Linked DNA regions of Homo sapiens. The protein of the gene in region 2 purifies or fractionates together with the protein of the main gene of each other region. This does not show direct contact. Each region holds a gene or a part of one and is shown on either strand. Other genes may lie near its edges. The genes, in order: MRPS35, PRKCI and SMC4.

Evidence for each region.
Region 1: the proteins of PRKCI (region 2) and MRPS35 purify together in Homo sapiens (affinity purification with mass spectrometry; one large-scale study listed by BioGRID and IntAct). This does not show direct contact.
Region 3: the proteins of PRKCI (region 2) and SMC4 fractionate together in Homo sapiens (co-fractionation; one large-scale study listed by BioGRID). This does not show direct contact.

The regions. Positions count from the first base shown.
Region 1 is NC_000012.12:27,709,280-27,713,110, reverse strand, and holds the start of MRPS35 (small ribosomal subunit protein mS35 isoform 1 precursor), read right to left. Parts: upstream 2,280-3,831; 5' UTR 2,268-2,279; coding exon 2,156-2,267; intron 1-2,155.
Region 2 is NC_000003.12:170,228,881-170,232,611, reverse strand, and holds part of PRKCI (protein kinase C iota type), read right to left. Parts: intron 1-3,731.
Region 3 is NC_000003.12:160,402,650-160,406,149, reverse strand, and holds part of SMC4 (structural maintenance of chromosomes protein 4), read right to left. Parts: intron 3,475-3,500; coding exon 3,283-3,474; intron 1,823-3,282; coding exon 1,646-1,822; intron 1,563-1,645; exon of another isoform or gene 1,465-1,562; intron 1,406-1,464; exon of another isoform or gene 1,325-1,405; intron 1-1,324. UniProt on the Homo sapiens protein: Central component of the condensin complex, a complex required for conversion of interphase chromatin into mitotic-like condense chromosomes.

The DNA.
Region 1 (3,831 bases), on a different chromosome or scaffold from region 2:
GAACAGAACAGAGAGAGACAGAGAGAAAAGAGGCTGAAGGCACTTAACAGGCGTCTTAACTATAATGCATCCTTAGCAGAACTTTTTTTCTTTTGAGATAGGGTCTCACTCCCGTCACCCAGGCCGGAGGGCAGTGGTGCGATTACGGCTCACTGTAATCGACTTCCCAGGCTCAGGTGATTCTCCCACTTCAGCCTCTGGAGTAGCTGGAACTACAGGCATGGGCCACCACGTCTGGCTAATTTCTTGTATTTTCAATAGAGACGAGGTTCCGCCATGTTGCCCAGGCTGGTCTCAAACTCCTGGGCTCAAGGGATCCGCAGGCCTCGACCTCCCACAGTGCTGGGATTACAGGAATGAGCCCCCACACTCAGCCCCTTGGCAGGGCTTTTGATTTTCTTCTTCCAGTCTTCCCAATTCGTGTACATGGAATCATCATTCATCCAATTGCTCAGAACAAAAATGTAACAGGATTTTTTTGAGACTTGTCCTCAAGCCCCACATCAAATCCATCAGTAAATCCTATGAACTTTACCTTCAAAATATATCGCAAATACAACCACACCTCCTTCTCCACTATTACTTTAATCCAAGTCACCATCACCTCATTTGGATTACTGCAACAGCCTCCAAACAGATCTTTGGCTTCCACTCTTACCCCAGTAAAGCAGCCAGTGATCTTTTAAAAACGTAAATCACATTATATCAGTTCCCTGTTCCAAGCCTTTCAATATAAAACCCAAGCCAAAAATCCAAATGAAATGTCTACAAACTCTTGAGAGATCAGATTATTACTTAACTAACTCTCTGACGTCTTATACTACCACTCTCTCCTCTACTCACACTTAGCTCCTGCCACATTGTCCTTCTTCCCGTTCCTTGATCACACCCCTCAGATTGTTCTCAACTTTTGGCCTTTGCACTTATAGTTCCCCATACCCCAAAGGCTCTTTCCCCATATCTCTGCATGGCTTGGGGCCCTGTTCAAATGTCACTTCCTCAGAAAGATCTTTCCTGACCATCCTGTGGCCACTACTCCCCCCAAATCCATCATTCTCAATACTCTACTTTATTTTTCTTCAAAGCATTAAACCCTATCTGACATCTTATTTAGTTGTTTGGTTGTTTATACTATTGACTTCCCCACCTTGCCGTATCTCCGGTGAGTGTCTAGAACACTGCATGGTATACAATAGGAGTTAAGTATTCCAAGAATTTAAGAATGAAAATTTAAAAATAGACAATTATTAGACCTATGAAGAGCCAGTATGAAGGATTAATGTATTTATAGTTTATCTGAAAACAATGGGAAACCATTTGTAGATCTTGAACATGAGAGCAGCAAGACAAGATCTAAATTTTGAAAACCTCATTTGGCTGTTTTGAGAATTCAATGTAGGAGAGCAAGAGGGGAAACAGGAAACGGAAAAAAAACTTGTAGAAATGAGATGGTCACCTGAACTAGATAGTTGGTAGTATGAGGAGAGTAAATTAGAGATATAACAGGAAGTAGCACAGGTAGGATCCGCCTATTGATTAGACTCACGCCAGCTCCTCCTCAACGCTCCCGTCATTCTAGCCACACTTCTATCACAGCGCCTCTCACCCTACATAGCACTTCTCCGCTAATAAATCTGTATTTTCCACTAGAGTCCTCCGGGGTAAGCACGCTATCAAGCATCCCTACAATCTCTGTTAAATGGAGGTCATCAACGCCTGTTGAATGAAGGCCGCCCATTTGGTGGCCTGGAATTCAGAGCAGCAATTTGTCCTAGCACAGCCGTATGACTCTCTTAATGTTTGGGGAAATCCATGGTTCAACAGCGCCGATGCCCGATAAACAACACAGCACCAGTAACCTGTGCCAGGGGCTGTGGACGGGGGCAACACAGGAGCAGGTCACGGGGAAGGGGGATGTAAGCTTTCTGAGCAAACTCCCAGAGCACCCAGGGCAGAAACAGGCGGCTAGAAGCCGGGCAACGCGGGTGCAGAGCACAGACCCACGTCCATGGTTTTCCTACCAGACGGGCCTGGCAGCGGACGCACTGGCCTCCCCCGGGCGGCGCTGGCTCAGCCACCGCGGCACCCTTCATGAGGCCGGTATTCCGCTCTTGCACCTCCCCCAAAGCCCAGAGAAGACGAGACAGACACTCACGCAGGCTAGGTGTCGGGACCGGAGTGGCCGAGTAGACGGCAGTGGAGAATGCACGCAGAGTCCTTGCCCTCGACTGCAGAGACAGCCATGCTGGGAGCGCGGCGGCCGCCATGGCTGCGAGGACGGCAAGCCGGAGGGGACAAGCGGCGTTCAGTGTCAGGGGCGGGCCTGGGGCCGCTAAGCGCAGGCTCCCTGGGCTGGCACCGCCCTAGGCTGGAGAAAGAGGAAACACGTTGGTCTGCGCACTCAGAGCCGAGTCAAATGTGCAGGAAGATTCCCCCAAACTGAAAGAAGTAATGAAAAGAAAACAAAAAAAATCCTTAAAAATCGAGTGAATCAGTTCGTAGAGAATTGCAGATAAAGACCGTAGGGATAGGGGTTGCGGCTCACTGAAGGCGGGCGTGCTCTGGGTGGAACCTCAGTTGATCCGAGAGTCAGGCGGTCTACCCGAGGGACTCTTGTTATTTATAATTGTTGCTTTTCTACATTTACTTGGATTAAAGAAGTCTTCAACTAATGCCAGTAATATGCGCTAAGGGGAGAGAAGCAGTATCCCGAGCCAGAGTGCTTGGGTTTCAAACTTGACTTCACCACTTCTGGGATGTATGATCTCAGACAAGTTAGCATAGACAAATATTTGTGTACAGCGTTGGCATACAGTGAACACCGCGTGTACGTAGCCTATAACTTTTAGCTATATATGGTTAGCTTGTTGTTAGATCAGCTTAGAATTACAGAAAGTCAGAACTCATCAGGACCTAGAAAATAAACTTTTAATGAACACTCTTAAATTTTCTACGGTAGGATGAATTAACATACAAGCCTTAATAAAACAATTCTCGGCCGGACGCGGTGGCTCGCGCCTGTAATCCCAGCACTTTGGGATCCCGAGGCGGGTGGATCACCTGAGGTCAGGAGTTTGGGACCAGCCTGACCAACATGGAGAAACCTGGTCTCTACTAAAAATACAAAATTAGCCGGGTGTGGTGGCACATGCCTGTAATCCCAGCTACTCGAGAGAAGAATCGCATGAACCCGGGAGGCAGAGGTTGCGATGAGCCGAGATCGCGCCATTGCACTCCAGCCTGGGCAATAAAAGCAAAACTCCGCCTCAAAAATAAAATAAAATAAAATAAATTCTCTATTTTCTCTTTATTTTAAAAATTATTTTAATTAATTAATTAATTATTATTATTTTTGAGACAGAGTCTTGCTCTGTTGCTAGGCTGGAATGTGGTAGCAGGACCATGGCCCACTGCAGCCTTGACCTCCCAGGCTCAAGTGATCCTCCTACCTCAGCCTTTCAAGTAGCTGAGGCTACAGGCACGCACCACCACACCCAGCTAATTAAAAAAAAAATTGTTTTTCCAGAGATGAGGTCTCACAGTGTTGCCAGGGCTGGTCTCAAACTCTTGGGTTCAAGCGATCCTCCTGCCTTGGCCTCCCAAAAAAGTGATAGGACTACAGGCGTGAGCTACTGCACCTGGCCTATTTTTTCTATTTTTAAGTTTTTTGTAGAGTTGGGGGTCTTGCTATGTTGTCCAGGCTGGTCCCAAACTCTTGGCTTCATGTGATCCTCCTGCCTTGGCCTCCCAAAATGTCGGGATTACAGGCATGGGTCTGGCCTATTTCCCTATTTTGTCTCAAAGTGACAAAATTATAACAGTAAAAACAAC
Region 2 (3,731 bases):
TTGGGCGACAGAGCAAGACTCTGTCTCTAAAAAAAAAAACACACCCAGCTTTGTATTGTGGGTTAGTAAGTCTCAATGTTATCTGAAAAATGGAGATAATCATATCTGCCTCTGAGTATTATCATGAAGACTAAATAAGTGCAGCTTGAGCCCAGGAAGTTGAGGCTGCAGTGAGCTGTGACTATGTCATTGCACTCTAGCCTGGGTGATGGAGGAAGACACTGACTCAAAAAATGAAAAATAAATGAAAATAAATGAGTGCAGCCAGGCAAGGTGGCTCATGCCATAATCCCAGCACTTTGAAAGGCCAATGTGGGAGGATCGCTTCGGTACAGGAGTTCGAGGCCTGCCTGGGCAACACAGGGAGACCTTGTCTCTACAAAAAAATTAAAAATTAGCCAGACATAGTGGTGTGTGCCTACAGTCCCAACTACTTGGGAGGCTGAGGTAGGAGGACTGCGTGAGCCTGGGCAGTTAAGGCTGCAGTGAGCTGTGATTACACCACTGTACTCAGCCTGGGTGACAGAGTAGAAATGTGCCTCAAAAAAAAAAAAAGTGCAAAATACTTATCATGGTTCTTTTTCTTTTGTTCCACTTTTTTCAGTTGAGTTTTTTTTGAGACAGAGTCTCGCTCTGTCACCCAGGTTGAAGTGCAGTGGCACAATTACAGGCGTGAGCCACCACACTCGGCCTCAGTAACATTTCTGAATAACACTAACTTTAATTCTTTAAAAGCTTTTTTCTTTAATTGACAGAAATTTTTCTATTATATTTCACTAAGATAAGAGATTATTACTATAATTCAATACTGTCTAGAAAATTCTAGCCTATGGCTAAAAATAAATAAGGCTGGGCGCAGTGGCTCACACCTGTAATCCTAGCACTTTGGGAGGCCAAGGTGGGTGGATTACCTGAGGTCAGGCGTTCGAGACCAGTCTGGCCAACATGGCGAATCCCCATCTCTACTAAAACTACAAAAATTAGCCAGGTGTGGTGGTGCACGCCTGTAATCCTAGCTACTCAGGAGGCTGAGGCAGGAGAATCACTTGAACTTGGGACGCGGAGGTTGCAGTGAGCCGAGATCACGCCACTACACTCCAGCCTGGGCGACAGAGTGAGACTCTGTCTCAAAAAACATAAAATAAATAATAAATAAATAAATAAGATATAGAAAAGAAGAGGCAAAATTGCTACTTGCAGATGACATTATCTAGCTTAAAAATTCTAAGACAGTTAAATTATTAGTAAGGTGGAAAGTTTAATTTAAACATACAAAAAGAAAACAGTATGTAATAGGTCTACAAGAAGACCCCATTCACAAAAGCACATGATTATAAAATATATAGGAATAGGCCGGGCACGGTGGCTCAAGCCTGTAATCTCAACACTCCGGGAGGCCGAGGCAGATGGATCACCTGAGGTAAGGAGTTCCAGACCAGCCTGGCCAACATGGTGAAACCCCATTTTCACTAAAAATACAAAAATTAGCCAGGCATGGTAGCGCCTTGCCTGTAATCCCAGCTACTTGAGAGACTGAGACTGGAGAATCGCTTGAACCTGGGAGGCGGAGGTTGCAGTGAGCCAAGATCACGCCACTGCGCTCCAGCCTGGGTGACAGTGCAAGGCTCCATCTCAAAAAAAAAAAAAACAAAAAAAAAAAATTAAATAATGAATCAAGCCATTCCATAACATATATCAAAGTTAACTATAATATTACAATAATTAAACCAATAGTGGTATGTGCAAAAATAGATCTCTCCCCTAAAATCAATGAAACAATAGAAAGTACCTACGCACATTGTGGGAAATTTAGTACATAACAGAGTTACCATTTCAAATCAGTGGTGAAAGGACAATCTGCCCAATAATGGTATTAGAATAAATTTTGGAGAAAAAAAAAGTTGTGTCAGTACCCTATAAATGACTAAACCCCAAAATACCAGATTCACTGAAAAGATAATCACTTTAAAAGTTTCATAATAAGCCAGGCGCAGTGGCTCACGCCTAAAATCCCAGCACTTCGGGAGGCCACAGCGGGTGAATCACTTGAGGTCACGAGTTTGGGACCAGCCTGGCCAACATGGCAAAACCCTGTCTCTACTAAAAATAAAAAATTAGCCGGACATGGTGGCGCATGCCTGTAATCCCAGCTACTTGGGAGGCTGAGGCAGGAGAATCACTTCAACCCAGGAGGCAGAGGCTGCAGTGAGCCAGGATCGTGCCACTGCACTCCAGCCTGGGCGACTGAGCAAGACCTTGTCTCAAAAAACAAACAAAAATTAGCCGGGTGTTGTGGCGTGCGCCTATAATCCCAGCTACTTAGGAGGCTGAGGCAGGAGGATTGTTAGAACCCAGGAGGCAAAGGTTGCAGTAAGACGAGATCACGCCACTGGGTTCTACCCTGGGCAACAAAGCAAGACTCTGTCTCAAAAAAAAAAAAAAAAAAGTTGCATAATAGAAGAAAAATAGAATATTTTTAGATGAAAAACACTTTTACCTAAGACAGTAAATCCAGAAACTATCAAGGAAATTTTTAAAAAGGACAGGTTTGATGACATAAAAACGAAAAACTCCAGACTAGCAACAGATTGGGGAAATGCTGGCAACTTTAACAAAATGTCAATGTCCTGTCAACAAATTAATAAGAAAAATAATACAATAGAAAATGGGTAAAATAGGAACAATCCAGAAGAAATACAAATGATCATTAATATATAAAAGATACTTGTAAAAATAAATTACCATTTTTTGCCAATCTGACAGTCAAAAATTTAAAAGACAGATAACATGCAATGGGAATATAAGGCAGAAGCTTCACTAGTCCTGTTGTTAAGAATGTAAATTAAGCTCTTTTGGGAAACAATATCATATTTCAAGATAGGCATATCTTTGACCATATTTACAAGAATATGTATTAAATATAAGGAGGTTCCTTCAACATTATTTGAAATAGTGAGTTGATGAAGACAACTTTAAATGTTCATCAATCCGAAAAAAGATTAAACATATTATGGTGGCTGGGCGCAATGGCTCATGCCTGTAATTTCTACACTTTGAGAGGCCGAGGCAGGAGAATCACTTGAGCACAGGAGCTTGAGACCAGCCCCGTCCCTACAAAACATATTAAAAAAAATTAGCTGAGCCTAGTGGCGTGAGCTAATCCTAGCTACTCAGGAGGCTGAGGTGGGAGGACTGCTTGAACCCAGAGTGGTTGAGGCTGCAGAGGGCCTAGATCATGCCACTGCACTCCAGCGTAGGCAACAGAATCAGACTCTGTCTCTTAAAACAACAACAACAACTGTAGAACACTGTATTACCAACTATAAAGAGGTCTGTCTACCCTGGAATGAAAAGATGACCACGATTTTTAAAATCAAGTTGCAGATGCATGTGTGGAAATATGAACTCATTTATTGGAAAAATAAAAGGGTATGTCTGTGTGTGTGTATGCACATACATATCTATACTTATAAATATACCGATATGATATAGAATATCCCTAACTGTTAACAATGGCTATCTCTAGAAAGTGGGAGTGAGACAGCCATAAAAAATAATGAAATCACGTCTTCTACACCAGCATGGATGGAACTGAAGGCCATTATCCCTAGTCAAAAAAATCAGAAACAAAAAGCCAGATACCACATATTCTCACTTATAAGTGAGAGCTAAACAAAGGGTACACATGGACATAAAGAGGGAATAGTAGACATTGGAGACTACAAAAGGTG
Region 3 (3,500 bases), 9.8 Mb from region 2:
GCATCCCATATACTTCAGAAGCACAAATGTAATATAAATTTGACAATTTATAAATTATTTACTTCGTTGGGACAATATTACATTAGCTTCCTTTATTACTGAATTACGTACAGAGATGCTGTACAGAGAAAAAAATTATCCTTAGAAGGGTTAAAATGCAGTGTATTTTGATGAATCTTTGGATAAATGTAAAACTTTGATTATCCCAGGATGACGGTAAAAGATTAAGCAAAAGATAAACATAAGTACAATTTCCTGCAAATTGGTATCATCATCAAATTTAGTATTATATAGGGACATAACTTTTTATCCATTATTAACCAAACCAAGTCCCAGAATATGTAAGTCAATAAAACAGTTCAATTTGATTTTAAAAACACACAAAATCCTTTAATGCCACATTCTATAAATTCCAATCTTGTTTAGAAATATATCTGCAATTAATTTCCTCAACATTAATTTTTAAATAAGTTTAGGTTGAAGTATTGCAAATATACTGTGCCTGGTAACAAAAGATATTAAAAAAGGTTATCCTAGAATGATACTGATTTACCTTGTATACTATGAATGTCTAAAAGTAATAATTTTTAGAAACAATTGAAGAATAAAGACTAAAATGGAAACAGAGGCTAACATTTTATAAGTTTGTTATTAGGAACATCCAGTCACCCTAACAAAATTCCCTACTTATTTCAGTCATTTCTGCATCACAAAATAGTTTTGCTTTTATTATGCTTCGGTGATTCTGGATAGAACACAGGAAAAGAAGATACCCTCGAATCAAACAGGAACTTGACAAAGCCATGGTTTTACCCTAATTTTTTTTTTTTCCGAAAAATTCTGAATTTTGAGGACAGGGAAAAAAAGATAGGGGATTTTTCTTACCAAGCCATGCTGGTAGAATATACTTTTACTTAAAGAAAACAGGGTTTCTAATAAAAATCAGTTTGGCACAGGTACTTAATTTTTACATCTCTTTAAAAGGACTTGCTCTGTAACAGCTCTGATACTTAACAATGTAATATCAAAGTTTCGTTCTTTCAGTAGTAGTGGTTCCACCAAGTAAGTCATTTTCAACAAAACAAAAACCAACTTGAGTAAAGGTTAAGTTAACCATCCAAAGTGTTACAAAGATTAAATTAACTAGGTGCTTAGGTAAATCAAACACCAAGTGTACAGATTTTTTCATTTTTTGGTTATATATCAGAAGAGATAATAAGAACAAAAACAAAGGAAAAGGATAGATTAAAATATAATACATTTCATTTAAAATGTTACCTTAAAGGGAAATACAAACAATTGATAAAATAGTTGCTGTATCCCTGTCACACTAAAGCAGCACAGTAATATTGGTGTTTAATATATATTTCACTACGCCAATATTTACGTGCTGCTAGAGTGGAACAAGTATGTCAGTTCATCCAAACATAAAACGAACATCTGATGATGAAAACATAGTTTTGAATGAATTTCCTTAAATTTCTAGAGCAGCAAATAATGATTCGCATCTTGACTGTAGCATGTAAACCATGATGTGCTGCTACAGTACTTTAAGGCCTCAAAAATGTAGGATTCATCCAACCTAGCTTTATAGAAAAAAAAGTAACAAGAATAAGAGAATCTTTGAAGTCTTTAATAAACTTACCTGTAAAATTAAAAATCTATTATGGTCCAAGTCAATTCCATGGCTTCGAAGAAGATTTCCAACATCCTTAAATGTCTTTTTCTTTCCACTTATGTGATAGACAGAAGTATTATCTCTGCAGGCCGTTCTGGATACATAGAAATTACTGTTAGGAATGACTTCATAATCATCCCCTTCCTGTTTTGAGGAAAAACAAAACCAGAAAACAATTGTTGGTATTAAGTCATAGGCCTACTTCAAAATTCACTCATTTCATACTGAAACTAATTCTATGGATTAAAAACTTCAATTGAACATGCACACAAACTGCCAGTAGTTCTCATTAATAACCCAACTTAGCAAAGAATTGATACTTTTCCATGCTGTTTTGGTCCCTTTCTCAAAGATCACAAAAATCAAGAAGCCAAACCAACCAGCCAACGAAAAAACCCACCTCCAAACAAGCCTAAAAACGTTTATGATTGAGAAGACGTAGACAAGATTCCCACCATATCCAAAACCCACACAAATTATTAACATGTTGACAGATTAAAAAGCTGCAGCTTTTTAAAATGATGATTCAAAGAAAAAGGAAGGAAGGTAGTAACCGGGTGATACACTTTAGTTTTTTTGTGTGGGAGGGTAAAGAGTGTGCCGTTAATTTAAAGTAAAAAGAATCACAAAGAAATAACAACTAAATTCCCTTGATTTTCTTTTAAACAGATTTTTAAAAAAATCAATTGCAAATCTACTTTAACACTTTCCCTTAACCTTAAAAGTTCTGTCATACTGAAGCAAAGGCTTCTAAAATTTAGATAAATCAAATGTAATTAATATGCAATGGAATAAAATCTGATTTCCTGGCAATCTATTTTCCAACCCAACTTGTACAATAGAAAGCACAAAAGAAACCAAATTAAAATAGATGATTCTGTGTAATTAAAGCACTTTGTATTAAAAAAAGGAAAACGAATTCAAAAGACAAATCACCTCCCAATTTCATTATGTAATTAGTTTTCTATATTTTTAGGTTCCATCGAGTCATTTTTGAACAATCAATTTCCTACATTATTAAACAGAAGAGAAAAAGTCTCAACAGGTAAATAATCTAGACATTTTACCTCTAGTTGTCTCCATTTCTAGAAAACAAACATTAGCTTGTCCTTCCCCCATTTCTAAAGGACTTAATTACAGCAGTAGTCAAACTGAAGCAAAGCTCTTTCATATCACAGATACTCAGGGGCCACTAACATTAGAGTTAAAATGCACTGAAATAATGAAGATGGTAAAACCGGCTAACTGCTACATTTTCAAGTTTAGCTAATTTATTCTAAAGCAATCAAAATATAACTTTAAAAATGAACTGAATATTTATAGTAAAATAATGCCTATTTAGTACTCAGGACCCTAAAACTGCTCAATGCTTTTATTCCAAAAAGGATTACTATGAACTATTTATACTTCATTTCTTTAGCTAAAAAATAAGTATTTTAACAGGCACCACCACTCCCCCAAAATAAAATACGGTCAGAGATAATGAAACCAATGCTTTCCGCTGTAATTACATACAAATTTCTTAAAGCCAAAAATAAAATATGTAATGCATTTAAGTCCATTTTCCTTACTTGAACTTGCCAATAACAGTAAAAATCCCTTACCTTATCAATTATCTTTTGAAAATGAACTTCTACTGTACAACTCTGAATGTCCTTGTGTTCATCAGAATTATGTATTAATACTGAGAGTTTTTTAGATCTTATTTTTTGTGCTCGATAGCCAAACACAAAAAGCATAGAATCAATAACATTGGATTTGCCACTGCCATTTGGCCCGATAATACAGGAAAAGCGCTGCATTAAAAAAACAAAAACAAAAC